Linked DNA regions of Homo sapiens: region 2 is linked to region 1. Evidence: fine-mapped expression QTL. Tissue or cell type: monocytes after LPS. Region 1 holds a variant in brackets; the other region holds the start of a gene. All regions are shown on one strand. Distances are from middle to middle.

The links. PIP is the estimated chance that this variant, and not a neighbour inherited with it, causes the effect.
Region 2: it holds the start of KIAA0232, and the variant in region 1 is fine-mapped to the expression of KIAA0232 in monocytes after LPS (Fairfax 2014, PIP 0.95). The same link has a PIP of 0.9 or more in monocytes.

What each region holds. Positions count from the first base shown.
Region 1 is chr4:6,881,525-6,886,783 of GRCh38, reverse strand. KIAA0232 reads right to left here. Exons shown (of 10, transcript NM_014743.3): 10 at 2,620-5,259. Among named protein-coding and RNA genes, the nearest start is that of TBC1D14, 26 kb to the left of the region's middle. The variant A/G (reference allele first, on the strand shown) is at 2,696.
Region 2 is chr4:6,780,742-6,785,741 of GRCh38, reverse strand. It overlaps KIAA0232, which reads right to left and starts at 3,015. Exons shown (of 10, transcript NM_014743.3): 1 at 2,901-3,015. RefSeq lists silencers at 1,926-2,695, 2,756-3,635.

The DNA.
Region 1 (5,259 bases):
GCATGAGCCACCGTGCCCAGAGACAATACGTAACTTAATGAGTGGGATTTTGTGAGATGGAGGTTTCAGTGTTAAATGGACTCTGCAGTCAGTGCCCAAGGTGAATTCGGGCTCCAGCATCCACCAAGTGTGAGACTGCAAGTGCCTAATGCCCCATTGTGCCTCAGTTTACTCATCTGTAAAACAGAGCAGCTGTAGCTCCCTCATAGGGTTGCTAGTTAACACTCAAGAGCGCTTAGAATGCGTGGCAGCCAGTAAGCCCTCAGTGTCAGCTGTTGACTATGACTAGCACAGACAATAGCAACGCCAACCAAACGTTAGGTGGCAGCATCATTACCAGCTTGATAATTGAGGCAACCGTCCCTGAACATGCTATTAATTAACCACACCAGTGGCACAAGGCTAGCAGCGGGCTCTGAAACGACAGCTCATTTCCTAATCTCTGCGTTCACAACAGTGGCCAGCTTGTGACGCCATCCGACTGGCTGCTTTCAAGAGGAACCAGGGGCAGGGGCTTCCTTTCTGTTCCTGGACTGCTGGTAGATGCAGGCCTCCTGGGCACTGCCACAGCCACTCATGGCCAGAGTGGCATCTGTAGTGGCAGCAGCAGCAGGCACACAGGGCAGTGGCCAGAGCACTTTCAGTGAAAAAGGCAGAAGCCTTTACACTCCACCCCGGGCTGTTCTAAAAATACTTAGCTGTGGTGTCAGAATTCCTGGCCCGAGAGGGGAGGACTGCCTGAGCTCCGGGAGGTGGAGGCTGCAGTGAACCGAGATGACATCACTGCACTCCTGCAAATCGGTGGGGTAAGGACTTTAAAAATGGTGTTGGGGGGTGGGCCAACTACATCCTTTAGGGCCTGTGCTATTGCCAGGTGCAATGGCTCAGGCCTGTAATCCCAGCACTTTGGGAGGCTGAGGTGAGGAGGATGGATTGAGGCCAAGTAATTGAGACCAGCCTGGGCAACCCTGTTCCTACAAAAAATTAAAAAATGAGCTGGGCATGGTGAGGTGTGCTTATAGTCCCAGCTATTAGGGAGGCTGAGGCAGGAGGATCACTAGGCCCAGGAGTTTGAGATGACAGTGATCATGCCACTGCACTCCAGCCTAGGTGACACAGTGAGACTGTCTCCAAAAAGGAGCTATGCACAGATTTCAAAAATTTTTTGCACCAAAATAAACTTGTACTAACTTGTTATAACATGTCTTAAGATCTACTTTGAGGCACTAAGAAGGGTATGACTGTTTGAAAAGAGCACCTATCAGAGCAACATGAATTCTGCTAAAAATGGAAGCAAGGACATCAAATTTATGGTGATGCTTGGGTGGAAGAATGGTGAGATCAGTGATTTTTTTTTTTTTTTTTCCTGAGACAGAGTCTCGCTCTGTTGCCCAGGCTGGAGTGCAGTGGCGTGATCTCGGCTCACTGCAGCTTCCGCCTCTCAGGTTCAAGCAATTCTCTTGCCTCAGCCTCCTGAGTAGCTGGGACTACAGGCACATGCCACCACGCCTGGCTAATTTTTTTGTATTTTTAATAAAGACAGGGTTTCACCATGTTGGCCAGGATGGTCTCGATCTCCTGACCTCGTGATCCACCCACCTCAGCCTCCCAAAGTGCTAGGAATACAAGCGTGAGCCACCACACCTGGCCCAAAATCAATGATTTTTTTACAAAAAAGCTTATGGGGACAATGCCCCGCCCCCAGCCAAAATCAGAGGTTTGCCAATGGGTAACTTGTTTTAAGAAGGGATGAGACAATGGTGAAGACCTCCTCATCAATTTGTGAGGAAAAAATTAATCTTATTCATGCCTGAATCAAAGAGGACCAATGATTAACAGCAGAAACAACACCCAACACCACAGACACCTCAGATGGTTCAGCTTACACGATCTGACTGAAAAATTAACGTTGAGCAAACTTGCCACTCAATGGCTACCAAACCACTGCACTCAGATCAGCTGGAGACAGCAGCAGAGCTTTCAGGGGAAACTTTCAACAAGAGGAATCAACATCCTAAAGCATTTCCTCTGAGAACTGTAACAGGAGATGGAACATGGCTTTACCAGCACAATCCTGAAGACAATGTGATTGTGATCACAGCACTGGCTACCGAGAGGTGGGAGGGGTCTCCTCATAGCAAATGCAGACTGGTCAAAAGCAGAGGCCAGGCAACCATTTTCTGGGATGCTCAAAGCACTGTGTATGTGCTGACTTTCCAGATGCCCAAAGAATGTTAACATCTGCTTATGACGAGTGTTTTGAGAAAGTTAGCCAAAGCTGTGGCAGAACAATGCCTAGGAAAGTTTCACCAGAGCCCTTTTCCACCATGACAGTGCTCCTCCTGCTCATTCCTCTCAGCAAACGAGAGCCATTTTCCAAGAGTTTTGATGGGAAATCATCAGGCATCCACTTTGCAGTCCTGATTGGGCTTCTTCTGACTTTTTGTTTCCTAATCTTAAAAAGCTGTAAAGGGCACCCATTTCTCTTCAGTTCACAATGCAGAGACTACACTGACAAGGTGAAATTTCCAGGAGCCTCAGTTCTTTAGGGATAGACTGAATGGTTGGTATTATGTCTTATAGTAGTATCTTGAACTTGATGGAACTTATGTTGAGAAATAAAGTTTATATTTTTTTATTTTTCTTTTAATTCCATTTTCCATGAACTTTTAAAAGTCCCCTCATACATGTTTAC[A/G]GATGTCCATAGAAACGTTATTCAGATACTGAATAAACAACCAAAAAAACATTGTTTTATCAATGAGGAACCTGTTAAATCTACATAATACAGCTATAAAAATAATTATGTAGTTCTATAATTACCGACATGAAGACATCTGAGTAAAAACCTATTTCTGATGTTATAGAAGAACAAGTATAGTACACTCTTGAATGTAAATTTCTCTGTGTATGCATTCATATATACTGTACATTCAGAATCCTGGAAAGGGGCTTGCACAGATGTTACCAGTGTATGTCTCAGAGTGACAGAAGGACATATGAGTTTTCCTTTTCCCTTATACTTCTTTAAAAACACACTGATTTTTTTTGCACAATGAATATCAATCATATTAACATATAAAGATTTAATTTTTTCCCCAGAAGAAAACAAAAAGATTGAGCTTTGTGTACCATCCACGGACAAAAATGCTATGTGTTTTGCAGACTCAGGTAGTAGTCCCTGCGTGTGCTGGGGGTGAGATGGGGAGGAGCCGCTGATTTCTCAGCAGGCCACACCACTTTCTTCCCTAGCAAAGCTGCACAATGTTTTCAGCAGTGTCTGCAATGAGAGCTAAATGACCTCCATCTAGAACAAATGTAACCTGGGCACTTGCTCTTCCACGGATGCTCATGAGTAAAAGGAAGCTGGAGTTCTTTACAAAAGAAGCTTTGCTATGAGAAATAAAAACAACAAACTGTTTTTTACAATTTTTATTTGGTGTTAACTCCACAAGAAAACAAACAAAAAAAAATCAGTTACTCTGGTGTACGTGAAATCAGAACAATACAACCACGGGAAAAACAATCTCAGCCCAGGAATGGAAACTGGTACTTCAGTGCTATGGAAATGCAATGCGCTTCATACCACAGTGCGTTTCAGCGTTTGCCAACTTTTTAAAAATGCTTTTTCTTTGTGATCATCCATTCACAAAACTAAAAAGCCACACTTTCATCTCTGTTGCTGAAAGCCTCTGAGCTTCAGCTACTTAACTATGAAAACAAATAAATACATAATTTGTGAATCCCTTTGCTCACTTCGAATCCGTCCCATTCACCTGTGGAAGGTGCTGCATCTTCTCACCTGTGTCTGAGGAAGTGTGCACCTTTGCCACCTGGAGCCCTTTCCTAATAAACAGCAGCTGTCCAAAATCAACTGTGCTCAAGGTTGTGTCTGAAATCTATTTATTTGGTCTTTGCTACACAAGCAACGATTTCTAGAATAATCGTCACTGTAGTGATATGAGGAATTTACAACTTTCAATCCTTTTTTACTTTTGCTGTTAAATTATATTTCAGTGCAGATGCTTATCAATTTTTAGGAAGCTCCAGAAGAATGAAAAATACATAAAAACGTATCTGAAGTTCGTAAATAAATAACAGCAACATAAAACCTTACACATGCGCGCGCGCACGCGCGCACACACACACACACACACACACCCACCCACCTTAAAGTGTCAAAAAATGTGTTGTATAAAAATAAACCCTAACACGTGGGAAGATCGACCCGGCGGGCACACCAGGTCCCTCTCGGTGAGGACACACAGACCCTCAATGACTCCACAGTCTTTGATGGTACTTTCTTTTCTGTGTTATCAATTAAGAAAAAGGCAACAAAACCCAAATGTTCAAAGCAAATCATAGATTTCACAGCCAGTTCAGCTCCCAGCTAATAAATTATATGTGTGTTTACTGCCTGCCCAAATGAGTGGTGAAGCTGTCTAGAGCGCATCAGACTTTTCTGCCATTCCTGATGCTCCAGGCATGCTACGCTGATTTCACAGATTAGGTTTTTTTTGTTTTTGTTTTTTAAACAATGAGTTGGTTAAAAAAGAAAAACAATGTAAAAAATGTAAAATGTTTCGGCTGTGCACATACTGCTCCTCCTGGCCTCTGCCTGTGGCACAATGCCATGAGAGCCGGAGGAGCGGATCGCCATGCACAGACGCGACTCACAAGATGCGCCGGCTCCCCGGGCTCACCAAGGAGAAACGGGAGCCAGTCCCACGGAGCGACAGTCAGCAAAACCACCACACAGGGATGTGGAAAACTCATGACTCTACCCGCCCCAACCCACCACACACAGAACTTGCCCAGAACATTCTCTCAAACACAAAATGAGATCGAAGCTATACTACATCACAGCCAAGAAGCGGCTAGCTGCAGCAGCCAAAGATTTCTCTGGGTGATGAGGTGGCCTTTACTGCATGTCAAATGTTCACAATTTCAAGTTTTGGGGGTTTCAATTCAACATAGGTCACCAGAAAGTAACAATCTGTAACTAAGGTCCTTAGCACGTATGGAACACTCACCACAAAGAACCCTGCATGGGGTTTTGGTGTAAATGTAACTGCAGTATGAGAGCAGGTAAGGGGTGGGGTATGCACCCTTACCCCACTGTGTCTCGCATACGACCCCACACCCCAAATCCTTGGCTTCTTCAGTTAGCAAGAAAGTCACGAACCATAGTATCTTCCGTGATACTTTAGGGGAAAAGAAATCCTAAGAGAGAAAACACAGTATTTGGTGAGTCTTGAAAAG
Region 2 (5,000 bases), 100 kb after region 1:
CTAAGCTCCAAACCACAGGCAGTCTTAGAAGCCTACTGAGCCAGAGACTGACAAGATCTGAGCTCAGGAAAGATGACTCTGGCAGCCAGGCAAAGAATGGATAGGAAGGGGTGGCGAGGAGCCTGAAGACAAAGTTAAAAACTTTAAGCAAAGCAAGTAATCTGAGGTTTTAACACTTACACTAGGCGAGTATTTTTAAAGGGTTTGAGTCTTGACGACATTTCACGTCTTCCCTCAAGTGATCATCCCAACTATTCTGTGAAACAGGTGTCATCAATCTTCCCATTCTACAGATGAGGAAATTAGCTCACAAGCCATTAACTGCCAAGTCAAATGCTACAAAAACAAGGACAAAGCGCAGGCTCAGCACTTTTCCACACAATGAAAAATAAAGAACAAGAACAATCTAATTTCTTTTGAAGAGTGCTACCGTACAACATAGCACAGAGTAGGCTAGCTACATTACCCTATATTACCACTGGAAGTGTTAAAAATCCATCTAATCAGCCAGGCGCGGTGGCTCACGCCTGTAATCCCAGCACTTTGGGAGGCTGAGGCAGGCGGATCACGAGGTCAGGAGAGAAAGACCATCCTGGCTAACACGGTGAAGCCCCATCTCTACTAAAAATGCAAAAAATTAGCCGGGGGTGGTGGCATGCACCTGTAGTCCCAGCTACTCGGGAGGTTGAGGCAGGAGACTCGCTTGTACCCGGCGGGCGGAGGTTGCAGTGAGTGAGCCGAGATCGCGGACTCCAGCCTGGGCGGCAGAGCGAGACTCCGTCTCAAAAAAAAAAAAAAAAAAAATTCATCTGATCTTCTTAAATGTTTGCAACTTGCATAACAAGCTAATTATCCTTAGATTTGACTTCTGTTAACGTCATGTTAAAGACCTATACTTTTTCTCCAAAGCAAACAAAAAAGCACCTGCACTTTGAATTCTACTTCCTATGGAAATAAATAAGAATAATATTCTCCCTTCCCTTCAATGTTTAAAAACTGGCATTTCACTGATGTAACGGGCTTACATAAAAACCATTATACCCAAGGAAGCTGTAAACCACTTTTTGAATGATTAAAAATGCATTATTTAGCAAGTACAGCAATTGAATCTGAGTTATAAGATATATTAAGTGAAAGGAGCTTCTATAGATATGCAAAGGCACACTCTCGGAAATAGGTTCTGTCATAAGGAAGCGACATAGAGATCCTGAGACCTATTTAAGAATGGTTCAATCCAAAATAACTGATGGAAGAATATTTGACCTTGAGGATGCAGAGTGATAGAATCCGCTCCTCCTCCCCCCCCGCCCTCACCCGCCTTTAAATTCTAAGTCCACGAAATGGTCAAAGTGTTCTGGAACGGGTCTTATTTTGCATAGGAAGAATCTAGCTTGGGCATTTTACCGCACAGTTTTATCCACAGCATCGCCTATTACCAAAACTGCTTGTCCCTACCCCCTCACGAGCTTTCTAACAGTTTTTAAAACAAGACCCAGAAATGTAAAATCCCTTCTTAGGAACTTGAACAGTAAGTCAAAGTATCCAACCCAGGTAATTATTAGCAAGAACTACATTTATATAATTTTTTCCAAAGAATCTCGCATGCCTCCTCTCCGCTGAATCTCCCTCCTGTTTTTAACTGGGTTAAATCTTTATAGCTTGCCTATAGAGGACAAAAACGGAAAGGTGGCAAAAAAGAAATCAAGACAGTTCTGCCATGATTTAGGGGTCTGTACCAAGAGTTCGGCAGGTCCTGTCACCTGCGCACCACAAGACGCAAGCTGAATTCTAGGGCAAGACGAAGCATTCCAACACGACACACACTGGTTTCTCCAGCGGGAAGAAGCAGAGAGCTCTAGAAATGCCGGCTGCAGACGCGTATTGTTGGAAAGGAGCCGGATCAGGCCCCGCAGCAACTCGGGGCGCCCTCGCGACAGGGTTTGCCGCGCAGCGCACGGATGACTGTGGGCCTGTCACTCCTAGCTCCAGCTGTAACCTTCGCCAAACCTTGCGCCGCACCGGCCCCGCCCGCCAGGCCCGCCCCCCGCGCCGCGCCCCGCGCCATAGGCCGGCGCGCCAGTCGCTCAGCCGGCCTCCCGGCCCCGCCCGCCTGCGGCCCTCCTCCCCCGCCCGGCGGTTTTCCCTTCCCGGGGCCCCAAAAGGACAATGCTGGAGGGGAGGGGAACGGAGGGAACGCGAGCGAGCGGCCCAGGCTGCCGGCCTGACCCCGCTGCCGGGGACGCCGGGCGCCTCCCACCGGCCGAAGCCTTCCTCCCGCGCCCACTTTCGGGGCTCTACGTCCTATCAAGTCTAAGCACCCCCGCCTCGTCTCCCCTAGAAGAGCCGCCCCGGCGCGGCGACACCTGCCCCAGGCAGGAGGCAGCCAACGGCAACCCATTGTGCGGACTCATCGTCCACAGCCCACCCGGGCGCAAGAGCCGCAAGCTGGTGTCCCGGCGTCCTGGGGTCGGGGCGGGGGTCCCAGGGCCCACAGCTCACCCGCACGCCCGGGCACCACCAGGATCGGGGCCGGTCAGGCCTCCCTCGGCTGGCCCCGGAGCCATCAACAGCGGCCCGGTCTCCCTTAGGCTGGCCCCGGAGCCATCAGCGGCGGCCCGGCCTCCCTCAGGCTGGCCCCGGAGCCCCCGGCGGCGGCCCGGTCTCCCTCAGGCTGGCCCCGGAGCCCTCGGCGGCGGCTCGGCCTCCCTTAGGCTGGCCCCAGAGCCCACGGCGGCGGCCCTGTCTCCCTTGGGCTGACCCCGAAGCCTTCGGCTGCGGCCCGGCCTCCCTCGGGCTGGCCCCGGAGCCCCACGGCGGCGAGCGTCCGGCCTCCCCGGCCCGCGCCCACCCGGCCGAGGGGCTGCTCCGCGCCCTCCCTCCCCGCCGCCTGCCCGCAGTACCTGCCGAGGCTGCCGGGCGGCGCGGCGGCCGGCGGGGGCGCCTCTCCTCTGGCTCCGAGGGGCTGCGGGCGGCTGCCGAGCGCCGGGCGGCCCTGGCCTGCGCCTTACGTAAAGCGGCGGCGGCGGCCCCAGCGCCACTCCGCGGAGGGCGGGAGGCGGCGCGCCGGGAGCCGCTCCGCTCCGTTACCCGGCAACTGGCCTCAGCGCCCCGCCAACCAGGGGCGCGCTCCATATCCTTCCGCCCGGGTGCCGGGATTACATCAGCGCCGGCCGGTCCCCGCCCCTGCCCCTCCCTCCGGCTGGGCTGCGGGCGCGCGCGGGCGGTGGGCCGCGGGCTGACGGCGCGAGGGGACAGGCCGGGGCTGGTGCCTGGCGGGTGGGGGTCTAGGGCCCGGGACGCGCCGTGCAGCTTGGCCGGGGCGGCGGAAGCCGCTGGGAGGTGAGAGGGCAAGCAGTAGAGAGGGCAGGCAGGAAGCGGGAGCCCCCCAGCGTGCTGGGCGTCGGAGAGGAGACGTCTCCCGCGGAGGGGCACGTGGGACTGCCCTCGGCAGAAGCCCCCGAACTCTGCCGCCGCGCCCCGCCCCCGGCCCGCGCTGGGGAAGTGGGGCTCGGCGTGCACGGCCCCGCCCGCGGCCCGGTGCAGCCCCCGCCTTCCCGGGCTCGCGCGCCACCTGTCCGCGCCCCCTCCTCGCCGCGTCCTGGGATGGCTGGAGTAGGCGGCTTAAAATAAAGACTTTAATTTTTTGTTGTTGTTGTTAAGGAACCCAGAAGACAAGCTAAAGAAATGTGACATGGCTCTTTTTTTATTAACTAGGCAAAAATAAATTCTGGAAGCTTCGAAAGTGGAAACCAAAAATGTGCATTAACCTTTTAATCAAAGTGTCTTCACAGCCACCTACCTTCCCTAAATGTGACTCCTAGGCCTGTTCTAAAAAAGCAAATAAGTATCATGGACCTGGAAAAGGAAGGGAGATTACTTAGAAGAAAGAGGTCCAATGGGAGGAGTGACTTACCTGGGGTCATTTGTTCATTTATGCAGCACCCACTAGGTGCCAGGCACTATGCTTTTCTGTTCAGAACCTGTTGGAGAATTTCCTGCACCAGCTCACGGGCTTGTGGGAGAAGCAGATGCTGAAACACTGGAGAGGGGTCATCTGCTGAGTTGGCTAGATGCTCCATGCATCCATGGAAGGACAAACCGAGGAACTGTCGCTTACGTACTATCTACAGAGTGTTTTTTCTGCGAACATATCTTTTTGTTCTTTACAAAAATCGTGGGACAAATCTTTGTCATCCGCATTTAACTGGTGAGGAAGCTGAGGCTGAAAGAAAGTGATTTCACCCAAGCCTGGCTGCTACCGAGTGGACAGGGCCTTCTGACCTTGCTAAACCACCTCTTGCAGGAGACAGAATGTGAACCCAGGCTCCTGGCTCTGAAATATGGGGTTTCGTTTCCTTTACACTACTGTCTCCCTTAACCAGTTTGCTTCTAATTGTATTCTCTGAGCATTCGCTCAGGTGAATGTATATCGTCATAAATCACACGTTCATTCAGTCAGTTTCTTCTGAGTGCTTGTTGTGGACCTGGCTCAGTGCCGGGAACGCACAGTCCCTGTGCTCCTGGAACTCAAACTCTAAAAACAGTGTCGAGAATGGAAAGGGTATGGGAAATCCAGGGCCACTTGGGAGTAGAGGAGGGGAGAGTAGCAGAGCTTCAGAGCCTAGTTCACAGGTGCCTCCAGGCTCCAGGATTTCACAGACCAAAGTATGGGGGATTTGCAAAGGATGGTCAGCTTTTGATTTTTGCTACATTGGTGACATATCTGTCATCTACATCATATTTTACAAAAGAGTATTAACAGCAAAATTTTTTGAAAAGTAATAACAGTATATCTCAGTTCTGAAGAAAGGAAACACGGTTGGCACCTGTATAGTGACACACACACACACACACACACACACAGAGTTTATTGACCTTTTTTTTTATTACTTTGCCACAGACCAGTTTTTATACTAGTTCTACCATGAACTAGTAGAACCTGAAGACTTCTTGGAAGAAGAGGTTTTTAAGTAGGAATTATCTTGTATTAATAGGATTTG